4 linked regions of the Homo sapiens genome follow. The protein of the gene in region 4 interacts with the protein of the main gene of each other region in a pairwise test. Each region holds a gene or a part of one and is shown on either strand. Other genes may lie near its edges. The genes, in order: MTFR1L, ARMC5, GALNT10 and CNOT2.

Region 1 (3,671 bases), on a different chromosome or scaffold from region 4:
TGCGGATGAAGAGGAGACATATGCCCGGGTCAGGTAGTTGAGGCAGTAGCTGGTCTGCTAAGGAATGGAGAACTTCCCAGAAGAGGTGGCAGGCAGCAAGGAGAGAGGAATGAGAACTGTGGGCTCAGAGAGGAGCAGAACCTTACTATACTACTCTCACAGAAGTGGGGGAAGGAACCTTAGGAGCACAGTGGCCTGCTGTCTCTAACTGATCTACTTGGTTTTCCCTGGTCCAGGAGTGATACGCGCCCCCTGAGGCACACCTGGAAACCCAGCCCTCTGATTGTCATGCAGCGCAATGCCTCTGTTCCCAACCTGCGTGGGTCCGAGGAGAGGCTTCTGGCCCTGAAGAAGCCAGCTCTGCCAGCCCTAAGCCGCACTACTGAGCTGCAGGACGAGCTGAGCCACTTGCGCAGCCAGATTGCAAAGATAGTGGCAGCTGATGCAGGTAGGAGCCCCTGTGCCAGGGCCAGAACGTAACAGGCTGTTCCTTTCCCCTGGCTCTTGGGCAGGATAGGGGTAAAGAAAGTGGTAATCCTTGGTTTGCAGGTACTTAGGTTCCGGGCCCTGGGGTTGTCCTGAAGCCTGGCTAGCCAGTAGTGCCTCTTAGATGGTTTCTACCAGCCATTTTGGGCTGAATGGTTTGGTTAAGAACAAAATATTAACCTGTGACCCCAGGCAGAGTCCCTCCCTTAGCCCCCAAACTGATACCCTCTTCTAAGTGTCTTTAAGATCACATCTTACATAAGCCCACAGTAGCTTTTTTTTTTTCTCCTCTGAGTGAGTCTTGCTCTGTCGCCCAGGCTGGAAGTGCAGTGGCACGATCTTAGTTCACTGCACTCTGCCTCCCAGGTGCAAGCGATTCTCCTGCCTCAGCCTCCTGAGTAGCTGGGACTACAGGGGTGTGCCACCAGGCCTGGCTAATTTTTATATTTTTAGTAGAGACAGAGTTCCACCATGTTGGCCAGGCTGGTCTTGTATTCCTGACCTCAGATGACCCACCCACCTCAGCCTCTCAAAGTGCTGGGATTATAGGTGTGAGCCACCGAGCCCAGCCAGTTTTCCTTTTTTTGGAGACAGGGTCCTGGTTCTTGCTCTGTTGCCCAGGCTGGAGTGCAGTGGCGCAATCTTGGCTCACTGCAACCTCTGCCTCCCAGGCTCAAGCGATTCTCGTGCCTCAGCCTCCTGAGTAGCTGGAATTACGGGTGTGCACCACCACACCTGGCTAATTTTTTTATTTTTAGTAGAGACGGGGTTTTGCCACATTAATCAGGCTGGTCTCAAACTCCTGGCCTCAAGCAATCCACCCAGCTCGGCCTTCCAAAGTGCTAAGATTATAGGCATGAGCCACTGTGCCCGCGGTTGAAACAAGAGTCTCATTCTGTCACCCAGGTTGGAGTGCGGTGGCACGATCTTGGCTCACTGCAACCTCCACCTCCTGGGTTCAAGCAGTTCTCGTGCCTCTGCCTCCCGAGTAGCTGGGATTATAGGCGCATGCCACCATGCCCAGCTAATTTTTTGTATTTTTAGTAGAGATAGGGTTTCGCCATTGCCCAGGCTGGTCTCAAACTCCTGAGCTCAAGCAATCCACTTGCCTCAGCCTCCCAAAATGCTAGGATTACAACCATGAGCCACCGCGCCCTGCTTTCCTTTTCAATACAAGAAGTAAACATTCCCCCCACCACCACTGAGACTTACCCTTTTTAAGCACCTATCTTCCCTTGCCTTGTTGTTTCTACCAGGAATCACAAGTGGCTTTACCACTTCAGTTCTTATACTGCTAGTGACATTGTCCCCATGCCCCACCCTTCAAAGTGGGGAGTTTCATGACATTATGTTATGTTTTCTTATCTCAAATTGGTGGACTTTTTTGGTGGAAGGAGAATTTCATAAAGTTGGAGATCTTGGCCTTAAAATACAGTGGTCGGGCACTGTGGCTTACGCCTGTAATCCCAACACTTTGGAAGGCTGAGGTGGGTGGATCACCTGAGGTCAGGAGTTCGAGACCAGCCTGGCCAACATGGTGAAACCCTGTCTCTATAAAAAATACAAAAATTAGCTGGGCATCGCAGCATGTGCCTTGAACCTGGAAGGTGGAGGTGGAGGCAGAGGTGGAGGTTGCAATGAGCTGAAGTTGCACCACTGCACTCCAGCATGGGCGACAGAGTGAGACTCCGTCTCAAAAAAAGAAAAAAAAAAAACAGTGGTCTATTATGCAAACAAGCCCTGTAACCCACCCCTCCAGCTTTCTGTCTACAGTTAAGGCAGAACCACTGGAAATGGATGGGAAGCCTGCCTTAACCAGAGGCATGGACAGCCAACAGGTGGATCGCTCCCAAGATGCTCAGGGCTTATCTTCATATTCCTCCCATCCTCATTTTTTCACTCTGCATTGACTCAGAGTCATAGCTCTGAAATTTATCATTTGGTAGGACACATGAAAATCATGGTGTTCTTTGAAATCTTCATGTATTTAATTTCTTCACATGGAAGTTTTATGAAGAATTGTACTGAAACTTTGTTATTTCTTGGCTACTTTTTTGTCATCCAAGAGACAAGCAGAAGTAACATCTTTTTTAGAAACATAGTTTTTAGTGTATTTAGTGTTTTTAAAGTATTTTTAGAAATGTAAAAACTGAGGAAATTCTCTCCACTGAAATTTGGGGAGGTTGGGAGGTCTGTTACCATTCTGGTTTTGCTCAGAACATGTCTTCTAGTTCACAGATAGCAAGATTTCAAAGGAGCATAGTCAAAAGCACTAGTCTAGTTAGAGAAAAGGACAAATTCAGGCCTTAGCTCTTATCTCTGCTGCTTTGGCCTATGACAGGGCTGTCACTCCACAGCCTATTGTGGAATGGGAGCTTTTAAATGCCAAGGCCATTATGGGGCTGGGTTTTCCTGCCTTCCTGGAACACTGGAAAAGCCCAGTGCTTCTACAGCTTTCTGAGCCCCCGAGTGAGAAGCATAGTGGAATGACCCTCCACTGGCTACAGATACCATCCTGGCTCTCCCAGATTGTCATGGTGTCAGCCCAGGAAATGAATGTTCAGTAGGCAGGGCTGTGGGGAGAAGATATTGCTACTGTGTTCTAGCCCCAATGTCCACCCATGCCTATTGTTTTCTCTTTCAGCTTCGGCTTCATTAACGCCAGATTTCTTATCTCCAGGAAGTTCAAATGTCTCTTCTCCCTTACCTTGTTTTGGATCCTCATTCCACTCTACAACTTCCTTTGTCATTAGTGACATCACCGAGGAGACAGAGGTGGAGGTCCCTGAGCTTCCATCAGTCCCCCTGCTTTGTTCTGCCAGCCCTGAATGTTGCAAACCAGAACACAAAGCTGCCTGCAGTTCGTCTGAAGAGGATGACTGCGTCTCTTTGTCCAAGGCCAGCAGCTTTGCAGACATGATGGGTATCCTGAAGGACTTTCACCGAATGAAACAGAGTCAAGATCTGTAAGTATCTGATGAGGAGCTCTGGTATCTATTTACTCAGAGTTGCCCATGGCCAATTATGTAATGCAACATACTTACATAGTAAGTTCTTAGTAGTACCATATGTTATGTCATTCATAAAGCTTGCTGACTACCTGCTTGCCAGTGCCTGGGGCCCCAGTTTGAGGAAAGAGCAACACTACATTTATTGGGTTTGGTCACCCCAACCAAATATGAGGC
Region 2 (2,754 bases), on a different chromosome or scaffold from region 4:
AGTGTTCACTCTTTGGGTAATGGGTTCACTAGAAACCCAATCCTCCCCAGTACACAATACACCCGTGTAACAAACATGCACGTGCCCCCTGAATCTAAAGCAAAATAATAGTCAAAAAAAAAAAAAAAAAAAAAGATCTGGAAGCCAGATGATGGAGACCCTGCCTTGGAGACCAAAGCAATGTGAGCCCTTCCCTCCCCTCAACGCCAGCACAGGTCTTTGTCTGTCTCTGGGCATGACTAAGACAGGGCTCAGAGATTCCCTCCACAGCAGGTCTTCCCTCAGACAGACAGCAGTAGGACACGTGGCCCAGGAGATGAAAAGGGAGCCAAAGAATGGGGGCCCAAGATGGGCAACAGTCAGTAATGCAAAGGCCTTCAACACATCATCAGACTAACAGCATTCCCTCAGCACAACCCTTTCAGCCCCAAGCAAGATCTGTGTGTCCAGTTGGGTTGCTATGTCAGAGGAGTGAGGCCCTGACAGCAGGAAGCAGGCTTCCCCTGAGGCCCAAAACCACATCCTAAGCAGCAGCCTGGGAACTCAACCTTGTCCCAGTACTTATTAAACTGTCACATGCAAGGGTGGTCTGTGTCCAGACACAAAGACCTGAACAAGACCCTGCTTGGTGGGCGAAGAAACAGAAGCAGACACACCACACAACACAGGTATCCAACTCCAAATTGTTTAATCTCAATTCCAGAGGTCTAGGCCAGGCCAGGCACCTGGGGCTCTGGGCTGTTCTGCTTCTCTGGGCCCTACACCCAGAACCTGGCCTTGGCTTCTCGCTCCCGGGTCTTTAGATCGTCATCTTGGAGTCCGGTTCCATGTTCTCACCGCTCCTCCATGATGACTCCTTCTGCTCAGCCTCCTCCCTTGCCAGTCTCAGGGAGGATCCTTCACAGCCAATTCATCCTTGGGTCCCCTTCCCAGGGGACGTCAACAGTCTAGGCAGGGACCCTTGCCCCCAACTCAATCCCCATCACCACAGCCAGCAAAGCCTCCGTCAGGGGCCCTGCCTCTTCACCTGCTGCCTCCACAAGCCCCACCAGGGCCAGACCCCGCTTCCTCGGGCACTGCTCTGACCCCAGTGTCCAGCGGGCACAGTGGGCAGCCAGCCGGGGCCGGCCCAGGCGGAACACCTCACCCACTGACTCCGGGCCACCCTGGGGTCCCAGGTGGATGCGGCCCACGGCCTCTTCCAGCTCCTCCTCCAGCCCAGGCAGTAGGAAACGGCCAGCAGCCTCCAGTGCCTCCTCGGCCTCTGAACCCAGCAGGGGCTGGCCTGGTGGGGGCACGGGCCCCAGGGCAGCCCCACACCCCCGACAACCATGCAAATGATGCAGGACAGGCCAGGCTGCACCAGGCGACAGACCTCGCAGGGGCACCAGGTCCATCTGGGCTTCTGCAAAGCTGCCTGACAGCAGGGCCCGGAAGAAAGGGGAGGCGGTGGCTGAGGCCGCTCGCTGGGCAGGGAGCTGGAGGCCTGAGTCCAGCAGGAAGTGCAGGTCGGGAGCTGGGACAGGGGCTGGGCCCAGCAGAGGTTCATAGAGGCAAGGGGAAGGTGAGTCTAGGTCCATGGGGACTGCCTGTGGGACAGCTGGGCTCACAGTGGGAGACACCAGGTCTTGGAGGCAGGAAAGGGAGTCCGCGGCAAAGAAGAGGAAGAGCGGGTGTGGGGCCGGCCGGGTCAGCGCCGCAAGGAGGAGCCGGAGACCACCCTGCTCCAGAAGCAGCCGGCGCCACAGAGAGGGCTTCCTACAGGGAAGAGAGGGCCTTTCAAAAGGTGGGCAACGGGCCTGGGAAACACAGCACTCCTCCCCCAACCCCGCAAGGCACCCACTTCCCACTCACCGGCAGATGAAGGGCAGGGTCAGCGCGCAGGCCACTCGGTCCTCAGGGCTCCCAGAGAGCAGCAGGTGCGTCAGGGCCCCAACCCCAAAGGGCGACTCAGCCTGAACCGTCAGGTTCTGCAGTAGCCTCTCCCCTGTGAGTGGAAAGCTTGTCAGGCTGGGAACTGGGGTCTAAGACAGGTGGGGTGAGTGAGACAGGGCTCTGGGCCCGTGAGATGAAGGAGGGTGAAACCTCTGGGTGAGAAATCAGGGCACTGAAGAGACAGTGCTGGGCTCGGGACGCTGGGAACCTGAGGTCCAGGACAAGGACAGAAGGTGGGACAGTCAGGGTGTAAGTCTGGGCCCCTGAAGTGTGGGCGGCAAGCCACCCAGGCGCCGAGGCAAGAGACGGAGGACACGAGCTGTTCCAGTATAATACAATATAAAACAAGAATAGTTATACCAGATATAGATCTTAGAGATATATGAATATCATTAATCATTAGTTTGTAGTAATTACTCTTTATCCCAATATTGTAATAATCCTCGCTCTATAATCATAACCTGGGAAAAACCAGGCCATACAGAGATAGGAGCTGAGGGGACATAGTGAGGTGTGACCAGAAGACAAGAGTGCGAGCCTTCTGTTATGCCCGGACAGGGCCAGCAGAAGGGCTCCTTGGTCTAGCAGTAACGCCATGAAGCAGCCTGTGGTCAGGGCACAGCAGACAGGGCAGTCCCTGGCAGTGCTGGGGGTGATGGTGAGGCTGGGGTTCACAGGTCAGCGTGCTGGTGGGGAGCAGTCAGGACAGTGCTGAACCAATGGCAGAGCCAGGAAAGAAGCACAGACCAGCCCAGATCCTGGGCGCGGGGCTGCATCTAGAGTTAGGGTATCTGGGTCCCAGGGCTAGGGCAGAGGACA
Region 3 (4,338 bases), on a different chromosome or scaffold from region 4:
AACCCATATGGAACACATTTTTCATTTGGATAAAGTCCTGTCAGACTTCCCTCCAGAGCCTCTGCAGTTATTTCTACCAGAAGGATCAACGAGATGCTCAAAGATGATTCTCAACAATTACAAGAATGACAGGCTGAGCTCAGAACTGGTCAGCCCTGTTGAAAAAGCTCTGTATGCTCAAGATGCCAGATTTCCCAGATAGCAGCCTGGCATGTTACATGTATGTTCCAGTACACTGGGATGAGGGATGGAACACCATCACTCTGAGAAGTCAGCCTCTTTCCTCAAGGCCAGCTGACATTCAAACAACGGACTGGGGGCCAAGCCCAGTGCTCTGCATCTGTGGGAGAGTGAAACAAAAAGGGGCTGTGTGGAAATTTGGCAGGGCGTTCTTGAAAGGCAGCAGATGAATGCTGAATCCTGTAGCACCTAGAAGAGCTTATCATTGGGGAAACAGCTCCATTCTGCTGCTCCCATGAAGCAAAGAGATTTTCTTTAAAGCAAGAATAATCAGTTGGTATTCCCCCCAAACCCCCAAACCCCCTTCACCACTTCTTCCTCCTCCTCTTCATGCTATTCCAGAGAAAAAGAAATGAACAAAAACTAGATCTTCCCAGATGAGCCTGTCTATCCATTTCAGTTAGGGGCTCTGAGCAGCACCCAGCTGTTGCTCCCCTCTCTCTCCCTGCCCAAAAGTCTGCCTTACTCTATCAATACCCTCTTGCACAAGTGAGTAATTTACTTTGAAAGCTCAGGCCAAACTGGCAGTTAACCTTGACCTTCTCTACCCATCTGGGTCTACAGAAATGAAAATCAGGATGTCTTTGGCATCTATTGCAAATGAAATACGAGGTCTTTCTCCAAGCAGAGGCAGAATGTCAAGCACTATTTTAGAATGGGCTACAGCTATTCTAAAGGAGAGTTTGCACTAGGGTAGGACACTCCCCCTTGACCTGGAGCTGTGTCCAGTATGGAGCCTCCACAGCTAGGGATGCTACAAGGAACTCTGGACTCAAGACAGAAAAAAAGAAGGGACCGTTGTATTCCTCATTGATTAACTGATAGTATCACAGAATGTTAGAACTGGACCAATAATCATGGTTTACAGACCAAGAAAGTAAGGCTCAGAAAAGGAGATGAAAGGTGATCAAGGACACACACAGTAAGTTAGTGGTAGAGCTGAGGTCAGAACCCTGGAACTCCTGACTCTGATGCTGGTACTGAATAGGAACAGAGGAAAGAGATTTCATGAACGGAAAATCCATACAGATACAGAATTTCAGGGAGAGAGGTCTAAGCTAGCTGTCAGGGTTTGAACCAGGGGTTTAGGAAAGAGATGGAAACCTTAGTTTCTAAACAGTAAGCTCTACCAGAAAGATCAATGAGACCCTCTGGGATGCTTTGCAGCAATTAACAGAGTTACAGGCGGAGCTCAAATTGGTCAGCTCTGTAGCAAAGAGCCCTCTGTGCTCCAGATGCCAGACTGCCTAGACAGCAGCCTGATACTGGGAAGAATAAGGAAAACCATCAATCTCAGAAAAGCCAGCCTCTTTCGTCGAGGCCAGCCAACAGTCAGTCAAGTCTGACCCTGATACACAAATTATCCACTTCTCATGGGACCAGAGAAATCCCGTAAGAAAGCCTGAAATGTTCCACTATATGAAACAGTCTAAGCAATACACTCACTAGCACCTCCTGGGAGGGTGGGAGTGATGTGACAGAGCTTCTGCTATGAGGGAGCTGCTAGTCTAAATGCGTGCACGCACACATACACACAAACATACGTGGGTAAGTTCAAAGGAGGCAGAAACCATTCCGATCCCAGTTTTGGCTGCAATAAACACTACAACTAACCAGACTAGACAAGTTCAGAAGAGATAGGGAAGGCTTCTGGTGTTCCATCCTCAGGACACTGGGCACCAATAGCCTCTGGGACATTTTGGGGGTCCCCCCACCAGAGCCCCACCTCTGGACTCCCATAAGGTCAAAGGCAGCAGGTCCCTCAAGGACCAGGAGCTTACCCCCTTCTCCACCCCCAGGGGCTTGAAGCTTTAAAGGGAGCATGATCTTTACATTCTGCAAGGAATCCACAGGATCTGAGAAAGGAAAAGGCTAGAGTTGGGGCGGGGGTGTTGAATAAATGGGGAGAGGAGGAAGGCCCGGGTGTCTCGTTGGGCAGATGAGAAATCAGGAAAAGGGCTGACCTGAGCAAAGAACACTGGGATCAGCAGGTAGGGGTTGTGGGGGGGGGGGGGTGGGAGGAGGGAAGCAGAGAGGACCTGGACACCAAATAGAAGAACCAGAATCTTCATTCCTATTGGCACAAGGCAGGAGTCATCCTGGGATACAGGGATGCAGATAGGATCCTTCAAAAGAGATCCGCTGGAAGACGTCAAGGAATACCAGACGGGGACAGAAAGGAAGGTGGTAACATGTGGTGAGAAATAGCGTCCTGAGTGCTAGTTCGGACTCAGTCTCTGACTGGCGTGGGACCCTGGACAAGTCCCGACAGGACTTAATTTTCCCATCCGGAAAATGGGAAGAGCTGAAGAGTCTCGGAGCTGACTCTGAGGAGGCAGACAGCAGAAGGTGGAGGAAGGAACCACAGGCTAAAAGTGAATTCGGGAAGGGGGTGTTCCCGGCCTGTAGCAACGGGGGGACTCACCTGTCCCGCCGCCGGCGCCACCGCCGCCCCCGATCCCCCAGGGGTGCCGTCGGGCTGCCGCTCGCGGTACAGCGCCCAAAGCCCCACGTTGGGCAGGAGGACCAGGGCCGCCAGCACCAGCGCCACCGCCTGCAGGAGCCGCTTCTCCTTCCGCCTCATCGGGGCCGGTCAGCCCCGCCGCGCCCCGCCGGCCCCGCCGCGCCGCCCCCAGCTCCGCGCGTCCGCCCGTCCGCCCGGCGGCGGCAGCAGCTCAGCCAGCAGAAGCGGCTGCGGCGCCGGCCCCGCTCCAACTCCGCGGCACTTCCGCCGCTCGCCGGCCGGGGAGCTGGGCGCCGCCACCACGCCGCCGCCACGAGGGGGTCGTCGCCGCCGCCACCGCCCCCGGGCCCCGCCGAGCCGCCCGCCCCGCGCCGCCTGCCCCCGCGTCGACCGCCGAGTCTCTGCGCTGCAGGCTCGGCCCTCTCACGGAGCGTCTCGGCCCGCCCGGGCGCTGCAGGATGCCGGGCCGGAGCGCTTCCCCCCTCTCGAGCCGCGATGGTCCGTCCCACTCCTCGGCGGCTCCCCCGCCCTCTGGAGCTTTGCGAAAGTCCCGGAGTTGGCGAGTTGGGCGCTAACTGGTGCGGGCTGGGCACCGCTGGGTGGGGTGCATGTCCGCTCGCCCGGGTACCCTGCCGCCCCGCCCGGCAACCTCCGCCCGGGACTGCAGCCGAACCTTTGCTGCCTCCCTGGGGATATGCAAATAGTGCTGGGGCCCCGCCGGGCGTTCTGAGCCTGGAGCCCCCGGGGCTGTCACTTCCAGCCCACCTAGGCTCGGCCCCCAGGACCTGCGGACCTACTTTGACCCCGGCGACTCGGTGTTCCCGGCCATGAAACGGGGCCACAGCCGTGCTGCACGCTCACTGTTCCGCGGGCGGGCCCTGGTTTTCTTCCTCTAGGGGGGCCCTGGCGTTAGGTGTGAACGCCCTCTGCAAACTGTAGGGAGCTGTGCCCGGCCGCCGCCCGTCTGTAGATCCTGCAAACCGGCGGGTGGGTAAGTGACGGTAGCCTCTCTGCAGCACCTTTCCTCACGCAAGTCCAACCCCCTTGGAGTTAGAATGCCCTGCATTCTCACGCGTGCTTTTGGATCCTAAGCGCACTGAGCCCTTCCCGGAAAGCTCTCAGCAAACCGTTGGCGAGCGCCACTATGTGCCAAACACTGTGCCAGGCTCTGGGATGAAATGAAAACAGACCTGAGCCCTGACGTCTGGGAGCTGAAACATGAAACACGTAATTTCACTAGACCAGGCAATGTGTCTGTAACTGTGGCGAGGGCTTTGACAGAGGAGTCGGGCTTCTGGGCGATGCGGAGGGCCGTGGAGCCGGACTCCGACGGTGATGCCAGCCAGCGGCTCCTCCTCGGGGCGCTCGACGCTGGTCACTTAGCTGCCTCCTCCCTGATGCGGTGGAACGGAGCACCCCCTTGGCTACCTTACTCTCTGCCACCCCCACATTCGTCCTCTTGATTCTCTGCTTCTCTAGCTCAGCCGCTGACCTTCGTGCCTAGCTGCCACTAGTCCTTGACCAGCGTTCTGGCAACTCTTGCCTCCAAGTTCTTCCAGCTCCAGGCTGAGCGATGGGGATTCAGTTTTCTGACATCACAGCTCAGTTCTTGATTTCTGCAGCAAAACCTTCAA
Region 4 (3,671 bases):
CCTCATTGCCTTTGTATCCTCTGTACCTCGCATATGACAAGCACTCAGTAAATCTTGAATGCATGATGAACAAGAAGCAGTCTCATATAATCTAGTAGGATAAGTACACAAATGATTTTACTATGTAGTAGAATAAGAAGTTCGAGGTTATTTGGATGTTTCAGATGAGATAGGGCACATTCAGGATGGTACGGCTGTAGACTATTTGGATATTTCAAAGACAGGAGTAATCAGGTATCTTGGAAAATGATTAGGAAAAGAATTTACTGATGAGATTATATTTGAGATTAGCATTGAACAGACTGTGAGTAAAGTTGTTTTAGCAGTGGGAATAACATCCACAGCATGGGATAGATTTAGGAATGGCCTACTTTATCAAGACAGGAGACACCTGTTAGGCTGTTATATTGATTTCAGCAAGAAGTACAGTCTTCACATTTCTGAGAGATTTATTTCAAGATCATTGCTACTTTTAAAGTTCAAGAACACAGCTATAGAATAACATTTTCCACCATAAAACATCCTTTTTGTGTGTGTGAAAACCATCACTTGATTAGACTATCTTATTTTATCTTCACTTTTGGTACCACCTGTTGGCTTTCTTTTCATAAGTATGACACACGCACACACACACACACAGAGCTAATATTTATTGAATATTATCTACTGTGTATCAGATGCGATTTTAAGTATTTATGTGAATTAACTCATTTAACCTTCACAGCAGCTCCACAAGAGTTTAAGGAATTTGTTCAAGGTTACACAGATTGTAAGTAGTAGAACCAGGATTATATTACTTTGTAAGAGTAACTATGTGAACATGAGCTGAAAACATCAGTTTCTTTGATACCTGAATGCCATGACCCTAGAAAGCCATTTGTACATAGTAGAAACTACCAGTGTTAAATCCACAGGTGCCAAGAATCTGTTGAATTAAGACATTGTGATAGAATGTATTCATTCTAATAATTATGTATTTATTGGGTGCCTACAATGAATGAGGTATTATTTCAAGATATAGATAAGAATATAGCAAATAACAAATGTCCTGTTTTTATGGAGAGAGAGAGAGAGAATGTTAGTAATACTGCAGTAGTCCAGGCAAAAAAAAATGGGATGACTTGGACTAGTGGAGGTGTTGAGAAGTGATCAGATTTGGTACATTTTGTAGATAGAGCTAACAGGACTTGATGATGTAGGAGTGAAAGAAAGGGATCAAGAATGATTTCTAAGGTTTCCGACCTGCAAACCTTTGTGAATGAGTGCCACTAATCTAGAGCAGAAATTTAGGTTGAGGAAGTGTAGAGTGTACTTGGGAGATCCACACAGCTATTCCACAGGTAAAGATTCTGTGGCACTCCTCTAAAGATCCAGCCAGATGTTGAGACTCTCAGCTGATTCGAGCACAGCAGCCACTTCTCATAGTTGTGGAAGCCACTTAGCTCCATCCATGTTTCTTGTCTTATACATTCTTAGCACCTAGAAGGCAAAGCCTGTTCCTCCGCCAGGTGTATAACTTGTCCTCATTTTCATATATCTCGTCATTCTCTCAGACTGAACTATTGTAACATTTATACCCACCTGACTCCCCACCACTGCCACCACCAAACACCTGGCTGAGTCTCATATGTTATTTAATTCATATACTATCTTCTGTCTCCTCCAGGAAAATTTTTCTGCTTCCAGACTCACTCTATTCCCAAGTCTGAGTTAGTGTGGTCCCTCCTACAAGCAGTCAAGCACGCTATGTCTACTGCATGTAAACACCTTGGTCATAGCACTTATTTATTTTTAAGTAGTCTTTTATATCTCTAGAACAAGAGAAGGGAAAGTATTCTTGCTGAGGAGTTAGATATGAGTAGTAAAGGACAGATTTGAGGAAAGGAATAGAGAAAGAAGAAAGAAGATTATAAATCAGATATGTAGTGTGTAAACAGAGTAAAATGCTTGTTAAGGTTAGAAAACATCTTTGGGTCTTGACAGAATTTTAATACTCTAGAACAGTGGTTCTCAACCCTGACTGCACCCATGGAAACACCTGGGGAATTTTTAAAATTCCACTGCCATGATTGCCCAAAATCACAATTGCTGGAGAGGAGACCTAGACATTAAAGTTCCCTGGATGATGCAAACATTATTAACTACCATTAAAAAATGGAAAATGATATTGGTTGCAAAAAAGGCATTGAAATAGGAGTCAAGAAATTGGATCATTGTCTTTAATGCCTCATTACTTGTGATCTTGAGCAAGTCACTTAATGCCTAGTGTGAATTCTTTATCTGTAACCTACTTGGATAATCTCTGGAGTCTTTTCTATTCTAAAATACTTTGAATTTAATGAAGAAAATTGCATAAGGAAATAATTTTACAGGAATCATTAACCAGCTAAGTGCAAGACAGGTTGAAGGTAAGAAGCCATTGAGATAAAGCACCATTTATGTTGTCCTTTTTAGTATGGGCATGCCAGTGAGTTCCTAGAGGAAGCTGGCTGCTTTGCAAATGGAAAAGGGGACACTTTAAGGCATCAGTTAAGGACTACTCTCTCCTGCCCCTATAAAGATTTTAGGGGACTTTATTTAAGTATGAATATTCAGGGATTTGGTTGCTATGATTTTATTTTTTCATGTAACTTAATATTTTTTATTTCTAGCAAAAAATTGAATAAAGAATGACGTATTTTGCCATAAGTGTTTAAGTGATGTGCTGTTAATCAGTTTGTGCAGTGGAAATAATTAATGGAATAATTTCTTAGATCATATTCTTTAAGGGTTTCTGAAAAATGATCAATAAGGAATTTGACTAACACCCTGCCAGATAAGAGGTAGGAATCTATTTAGAATGTGTTCGTATAGTCCTCCTAATATTGTGTTGTTATTATCAATTGTTAGATTGAAAGAAAAATTTGACTCAAAATTATAACCTTTTAAACTTTTTTTAAAATTTGTTTTTATTCTTTGTAAAAAGGTGATAACCTTTTTTATAAGATGATTATAAGAAGGAATTGAGAGGAAGTAGTATAGTGCTTTGTTGATAAGTGCCCAATAAATTTTAATTTTACTGTCCTTCCAGTCACCTGCTCATATACAAGCTCATTTATACATATTTATATTTTTGCCTGTTTTAGTTTTTTTATGCCAAGAAAAACTCCTTGAGTTCTTCCCATTTTTCTTTTTTTTTCTTTTTTTCAGCTGTATGTCCTATTCTTGGCATAATATTTTAGAGATGATTTTTCTGTGATTGTTTCTAATTATACTAGTGAGAGATTAGATTTTTTTCCCCTTGACCCTATTCAGTTGTGTTAGTTTGACTCAAGCAACTCAAAGTTAATGACTTAGTATATTTAGTTTCCAAAAAACAAATCTTTATATATACCTTTCCAGTGCCATTCTTTATGTTTTAAAGAAATTCAGTTTTTAAAATAAATTTAAAGTAACAATTATTAAGTATTCAGGGGTTGATGATCCAATTTGAAGTGATATATTCTTTTTTGATCTTTTTATACTACTTCAACAAAATTAAACTTAGACTTTTTGAATTTATTAGCTGTTTTTGTGAAGATTAATTTTAGAAAGCTAAAATTAAACACTGAAAGTAAGTTACTTTATTCCATACGGTCTCTGTCCAGTTTTAGCACTAAAATCAGTTCAAGGATGCCAATCCCTAATTGGCC

Evidence for each region.
Region 1: the proteins of CNOT2 (region 4) and MTFR1L interact in binary tests that used the Homo sapiens proteins (3 or more experiments, as listed by UniProt).
Region 2: the proteins of CNOT2 (region 4) and ARMC5 interact in binary tests that used the Homo sapiens proteins (3 or more experiments, as listed by UniProt).
Region 3: the proteins of CNOT2 (region 4) and GALNT10 interact in a two-hybrid assay, tested with the Homo sapiens proteins (one large-scale study listed by BioGRID).

What each region holds. Positions count from the first base shown.
Region 1 is NC_000001.11:25,826,379-25,830,049, forward strand, and holds part of MTFR1L (mitochondrial fission regulator 1-like), read left to right. Parts: coding exon 1-33; intron 34-236; coding exon 237-448; intron 449-3,130; coding exon 3,131-3,452; intron 3,453-3,671. UniProt on the Homo sapiens protein: Mitochondrial protein required for adaptation of miochondrial dynamics to metabolic changes. Regulates mitochondrial morphology at steady state and mediates AMPK-dependent stress-induced mitochondrial fragmentation via the control of OPA1 levels.
Region 2 is NC_000016.10:31,465,083-31,467,836, reverse strand, and holds the end of ARMC5 (armadillo repeat-containing protein 5), read right to left. Parts: coding exon of another isoform or gene 2,636-2,754; exon of another isoform or gene 1,988-2,635; coding exon 1,855-1,987; exon of another isoform or gene 1,777-1,854; coding exon of another isoform or gene 1,759-1,776; coding exon 948-1,758; 3' UTR 672-947; downstream 1-671.
Region 3 is NC_000005.10:154,189,353-154,193,690, reverse strand, and holds the start of GALNT10 (polypeptide N-acetylgalactosaminyltransferase 10), read right to left. Parts: upstream 2,959-4,338; 5' UTR 2,825-2,958; coding exon 2,666-2,824; intron 1-2,665. UniProt on the Homo sapiens protein: Catalyzes the initial reaction in O-linked oligosaccharide biosynthesis, the transfer of an N-acetyl-D-galactosamine residue to a serine or threonine residue on the protein receptor. Has activity toward Muc5Ac and EA2 peptide substrates.
Region 4 is NC_000012.12:70,323,286-70,326,956, forward strand, and holds part of CNOT2 (CCR4-NOT transcription complex subunit 2), read left to right. Parts: intron 1-3,671. UniProt on the Homo sapiens protein: Component of the CCR4-NOT complex which is one of the major cellular mRNA deadenylases and is linked to various cellular processes including bulk mRNA degradation, miRNA-mediated repression, translational repression during translational initiation and general transcription regulation.